2 separate regions of the Homo sapiens genome follow, and region 2 is linked to region 1. The links come from fine-mapping of genetic effects on gene expression. A gene starts in region 1. The other region holds a variant in brackets. All regions are shown on one strand. Distances are between the middles of the regions. Region 1 holds the start of PCNX1 (pecanex 1). Region 2 has its middle 25 kb from the start of PCNX1.

Region 1 (2,911 bases):
CCTCACCTTTTGCACTTCTCATAGTGGTCCTCCGGGATTTTCTAACTCAGCACCCTGTCTCTAGCTCCACAAAGAACCTCAAAGTTAGCAGAAATACATTCAAAGGAATTCTCCTAAAATAAAAAGTTCAGATCCTTTCCTCCCCTCTGACTACTTTAAAATTTTATATGAAGCCTTAAGTAACATCTCTGTCCACACGAGTTTCCCTAACGCCCCACCCTAACCTGTGCTTTAGAAACTGCGCTTAACAACTTTCAATGTTGCTTTAAAAACACAGATGATTCAGAGAAGCTGATCGCACCGAATTCAGCAACAGGCAGTACTCTCTCTCCCTACTCCTATCCGCCAAAGGCCTTGAACCAAGCCAAACAAATCTGCTGAAATGCCAGCCAGATTCCCCGTTATCTCCCCGCTCCCTCCCCCCAGGGAGGCCAGGAAGCACCACGGCCACCGGCCACGGGGCCGAACAGAGAAGAACCGCTGCGAAGCACAACAACGGTTTTTTAGAGGCAGGAGGGTTCCGAGCCGGGTTTTCAGCCACCACCCAGGACCCCTGGAGGACGAGCCCGGACGACCCCCACACACACTCGGAGCAGAGCCGCACGGTCCCCCGCGCTCCCGGGGCTCCGCACGCGGATTAGCGGCGAGGCGGCGGGCGGCCTCTCCCGGGAGCCCCGGACGAGGGCCGCGGCGGGGGCGGGCAGTGCCGGATGCCGGGCGCCCGAGGAACCCAGCGTGCCAAGGATGGATGCGGCGTCCCCTAAAGCCGCAGAGCGCTCGGCGCCTGCCACACAGCCCCACGGGCGGGGGGCCCCGGCGGGGACGGCCTAGCCGAGTGGCCGCAGGAGGGAACCCCGAGAAGGGGCCTAGGACGCTGCCGCTTCCCAGTGAGCGGGCGGGGGCGGCCGGCGCGGGTTGCCGTGGGCTCGTTGCTCGTGTCACCTCCGAAACCAGGAAAGCCCCGAAGAGAGGAGTGGGAGCACGCAGTGGGGGCGGGGAGCCTCACACCGAGAGGGTGGCGGCCCCCGGGGGACGAGACCCCGTGGAAGAGGAAGAGGGCGCGACCCCAGCATCTCCCCACCGGCTCGCGGGGAAGGAGCCACCCGCTCCCCGCCCCCACACTCACCATGTAGAGGGTGAAGGGCAGGCCCAGCAGAAAGAGCCACAGGTAGAGGTGCAGCGCGTTCACGAAGGTGGCCTGGTGCGGGTCGTAGTACCAGCCCCCGCTGAGCGCGGCCCACACCCCCTGTCGGAGGATCTGCAGCGTCTGCGACCCCATCCCCACCCGGCGCCGCCGCCGTCGCCGCCGCCGCCGCCGCCGTCCCCGCCCCGGCCCCAGCTCGGCCTCGGTCGCCGGAGCCTGCAGCTGCCCCGTCTATCCACCTCCGGAGCTCCGGGTGAGCGAGCCGGCGCTTCGGCGGTCGCTGGTGCTGCTGCAGGAGGAGGAGGAGGCAGCAAACGAGGAGGAGGAGACCCGAGAGGAGGAGGCGGCGAGCGGCGGGGCGGAGGACGGCGGAGAGGAGGAGACCGGCCTTCTGAGAGCCGCCGCCATCTTGTCTCCTAACACCCGGAGCCGCGGCCCGGCCCCCGCCACCCGCGGCCCGCCAGCGCCCCCACTGCCGCCGCCGCGACCCCCGCCGGCCGCCAGCCCTGGGCCAGGCAGAGAAAGAGGCCCGGCGCCAGGGAGCGACCGAGAGGAAGCCGCGCCCCCTCCAGCTCCTCCTCTCCGCTCCCTCCGCCCCCTGGGCCGGCTACGGTGCGCGCCGCGCCTGGTCCGCCGCGGGCGCCTCCTGCCGACGTCCGGGAGAAGCGCGCGTCAACGCGGCCGGGGTTCAGGGCCCCGGGGGCTGCGGAGGTGGCTGAGACGCGGCTGGCTGGTCCGGAGGACCCCATTCTGCCCCTGGTAGGCCCCCTGGCAAGTTCGCCTACGAGTCTCTAAACGGGGTCTTTCTGACTCCGAAACTAACAGATCTTGACTCCAGAAAAGCGTCCTGCCTGTCATTTATGATATTTGTGAAAGACCTAGGAACAACTGAAGCTAACACCTGAGATACTGAAGGCCTGGAAGAGTTAGGTACGGCTGATGACACTGTTGAAAAGTCATAAACGCACCCAAGTTGAGCAAGAACTGTGTTGGCCCGTGTGTGAGAAAAAATAGCCACGTCCAGACTGGGAGAATTTACTACTTCCAAAGACAAGTTAATAGAAGCGGCACAGGACATGGAAGTATGGAGTGGACAGGTTACCATTTGTACGCGGTGATTGTATTTTTAAATGTGCTGTAACTAGCAGCCATTTTTATTAATGGGCCAATCTAAACAGGGTTGAAAAAGATTAACCGTGACGCCACCCCAAATTACAATAGGGTCTTGTAGATCTCTTTTTATAGCTGTAAAAACGGAATCATTCTTGGCTCTGTGTAATGTTTATAAGGCGTGTCTGATCTCACTGAATAAAATTTTATAGAAAAGTTTGAAATTTGAGTTTATTGAAGTTTGGCTTTTATGGCAATAAAAGTACTGTGTATTCCCAGATTACAGTTGCTATAATTAATGAGGGAAACAAGAGCCAAAGGAAACTGGTGATATTTTAAGAAGAGTAATGAAAAACCGTTACAATACCTCCCAGTGCCATACCACTTTATAGTTGCTCAGACACTATCACACCCATTCCATTCAGACCTCAGGACAACCCTTTGAGGGCAGCATAGCAGCTATTGTTATTTTATGGATGAGAAAACCTGTAAACTCAAGTAAGTGATTGGCCAAATGCTTATGGCCACTTATTGCTCATAAGCAATAAGTGGTTGAGAACTCTAAAACCAGCAGTCATGCTAACTGCATGCACTGAACTTTGGAAGTTCATTTCTCAAGGCTCTCCACCTTATTATCCATTTCAGGTAAAAGTTTGA
Region 2 (2,911 bases), 25 kb after region 1:
GTGTCACTCTGTCGCCAGGCTGGAGTGCAGTGGCACAATCTCGGCTCACTGCCTCCTGGGTTCAAGCAATTCTCCTGCCCCAGCCTCCCGAATAGCTGGGACTACAGGTGCACGGCACCAAGCCCAGCTAATTTTTGTATTTTTAGTAGAGACGGGGTTTCACCATATTGGTCAGGCTTGTCTCGAGCTCCTGACCTCAGGTGATCCACCCACCTCGGCCTCCCAAAGTGGTGGGATTATAAGCGTGAGCCACCGCGCCCGGCCTATTTTTTCCTTTTTGATGGCCTTACAGTGCCTAGCAAAATGCCTTGCTCAGAGTAAGTGCTTGATATAAATTTATTAATCCATCAGCTGGATGGATGGATGGATGGATGGATGGATGGATGGATAGATGGATGGATGAATGGATGGATGGGAAGGAGGTTATAGGAATTGAGACTCTGGCTGAGCTTTTTTAGCCAGGTAGCCATGGCAGGAGAAAGGCTTCACCTTTCATGAGAGCGTATGGTCATAATCACAGAAGGGAAAGAATAGCTTGAACCATAGCTTGAACCAGTTAACCATGCTGCCAATAAAATCAGGCCACATGTGTTTACCATGTTTTATGTTTACCAGGCTGCATCAGTAGGATACTTTAAAATATGGGACAGAAATCCTGACTCAACCTCAAACTAGCTTTTATCATAAAGAAATGTATTGGCTCCAATGCAGGATGTCAAAGGCTGGGTAGGATTCAGGACTGGTGGATCCAGTGGCTCTTTGCATCTCTCTGCTGTGCTATCCCCAATGCTGACTTCATTCTGGGGAAAGATCCCTGGGTTTTGGAAGGCTTCCAGTAGTTGCTGGGTTAATTGCTTCCCTTTTCACCTCCTACTAACTTCCTGTGACTCTTTCTTAAGGGTAAGAAAGCATATTTTCCGGAAGTGTTTAGAAAACTCTTTATGACTCATTGGTCCCAATTGGCCTTGGCCTGCCTACCCCAGACCCATTCACTAGCAACGGGGATGGGGGTGGGGTTCACATCACTCAGGACCCACCCTAGAGCTGCAGTAGAACCTGTGATGGAGAGTCACTCCAACACCCCTTACACAGCAGACAGTTTTATGGGGGCCACTCCAATGAAAGGTTGGCTCTTAGGACCTTCTCATTTTAGACACGCAGTAAACAATGAAAAACATGTCATCCAAGAGATCTCATTGTCACGGATCTTACAATATATCTCTTGCCTAAG[A/G]GTCTTCCGGTGTTTCTTGTGCAAATCCAGCGGTTAGTCAACAGGGTTTATGGAACACATGCTGTTTAGATAGTGTTACTCTAAGCACTGTACAAAGTTAGAAAAACAAGACAATGCAGCTACTTAAAAAAAATTTTTTTTAGAGACAAGGTCTTGCTCTGTTGCCCAGGTTAGCTTCAAACTCCTGGGCTCAAGCAATCCTCCTACATCAGCCTCCTTAGTCACTGGGATTATAGGCGTGTGCTGCACTGCCTGGCTTATTTTTTTTTTAACAGTAGAATGAGCATTGAGGAAAGTAGTTCTCTTCTGTTAATTCTGCTCCGTTATTTTCCAGAGTGTAGAAACTGCTTGATTTCCTTCCTCCTTTCTTTGTCCCCTCTTATTCAGCTCTCTCTTTCCTGTCACTAATTTTCTCCTTTCTTATTCTTTCCTCATTTCAGGAAAGCAACATAGCGGAGATTAGGAGTGTAGAATCTGGAGTTAGATTTCTTGGGTGGGAATTCTCACTTTGAGTTCTAGCTGTGACTTTCCAGCCGTTACTTCATTTCTCTAAGCTTCTTTTCACTGGTAAATCATGTCTAAACATTATGCCTACCTCCTTGGGTTATTCTCGAATTTTAAAAATGATGCACATTAAAAATGATTACTAATGGTTAATGATTTTAATTTTCTTCTTCATCTTTTTTTAATTATGCCACATTTTGTGTCCTGTTCCTCCCTCCTACATCCCACAGTGATAGGCTGATAGAAAATAGTCAGAAATAGAGTGCACAGAATCAACTTCCTAGTGAGAAATGGAATGGAACCATTTCAGTTCCTTCTCTTTTCTTCATTATACTTCGAGTATTTAAAGAGTGCTATGTGAATACATTTAAGGCAATGGAAATGTACAAAACCAGTTGAGAGGAACACATATGTGGTACATATGGAAGCGGAAGTATGAATGCTCTGTTCTGCATAAGAATCCCCCAGCTCTCAGTTGCTTCATCGAGGCCTGGTTTGTTCAATTGGTTAGAGCACCTTCTGATGTAACCAAGATCACGGTTTCAATTCCAGAATGTGGTGAGCCTACTTTATCTATTTGATGGCTACAGCCTCCTCTGCTGAACCTGGCAACCATCTGTAAATGCATCCATTGTTTAGAAAATGATCAATCAGAGGAGCCCGGTTGAAGCAATGCAAATCAATCACCTTACTAGGAAACAACACGACAACAGAAAGTACATGCTATCATGGTGGTGGGTTAACTGTATGATGTTTGTACATGAAGAAGGCATAGACCATGACATCATTATAGAGTTCATGGAAAACAAATAGGTTTGAAGCTATAGGTTCCACAGCAATTCACAGCCTATAAAAAAGATTACTGCTACGTCCCTTGTTTTTAAGGCCCCCAGCTCTTCTTAGAGACCATTTAGAGAATAACTGCCTGTTCCTCTAGACTAGACTCAATTGCTAGAAGTATCTCATATGGGAAGACTTTCCTGACATCTTGTTCTCCTCTTCTCAACTTAATTTCTCTCCAACCTCCACCCCTTCTAGAATTATGTGCTCTCTTTACTATGCTCCTTTTATGTCACATAATGATGGTTACTATCTAAGTCAGCTTAGGCTGCCATAGCATAACATGTTATGGCACTGGGTGACATAATACCCAGTCTATGTTATGGATTGGGTGGC

Evidence for each region. PIP is the estimated chance that this variant, and not a neighbour inherited with it, causes the effect.
Region 2: its variant is fine-mapped to the expression of PCNX1 in whole blood (TOPMed, PIP above 0.99).

Annotation. Positions count from the first base shown.
Region 1 is chr14:70,906,219-70,909,129 of GRCh38, reverse strand. PCNX1 (pecanex 1) reads right to left here and starts at 1,671. Exons shown (of 36, transcript NM_014982.3): 1 at 1,127-1,671. The coding sequence starts at 1,279. RefSeq lists silencers at 519-858, 1,019-1,358, 1,579-1,768.
Region 2 is chr14:70,881,305-70,884,215 of GRCh38, reverse strand. No RefSeq gene overlaps it. Among named protein-coding and RNA genes, the nearest start is that of PCNX1, 25 kb to the left of the region's middle. The variant A/G (reference allele first, on the strand shown) is at 1,232.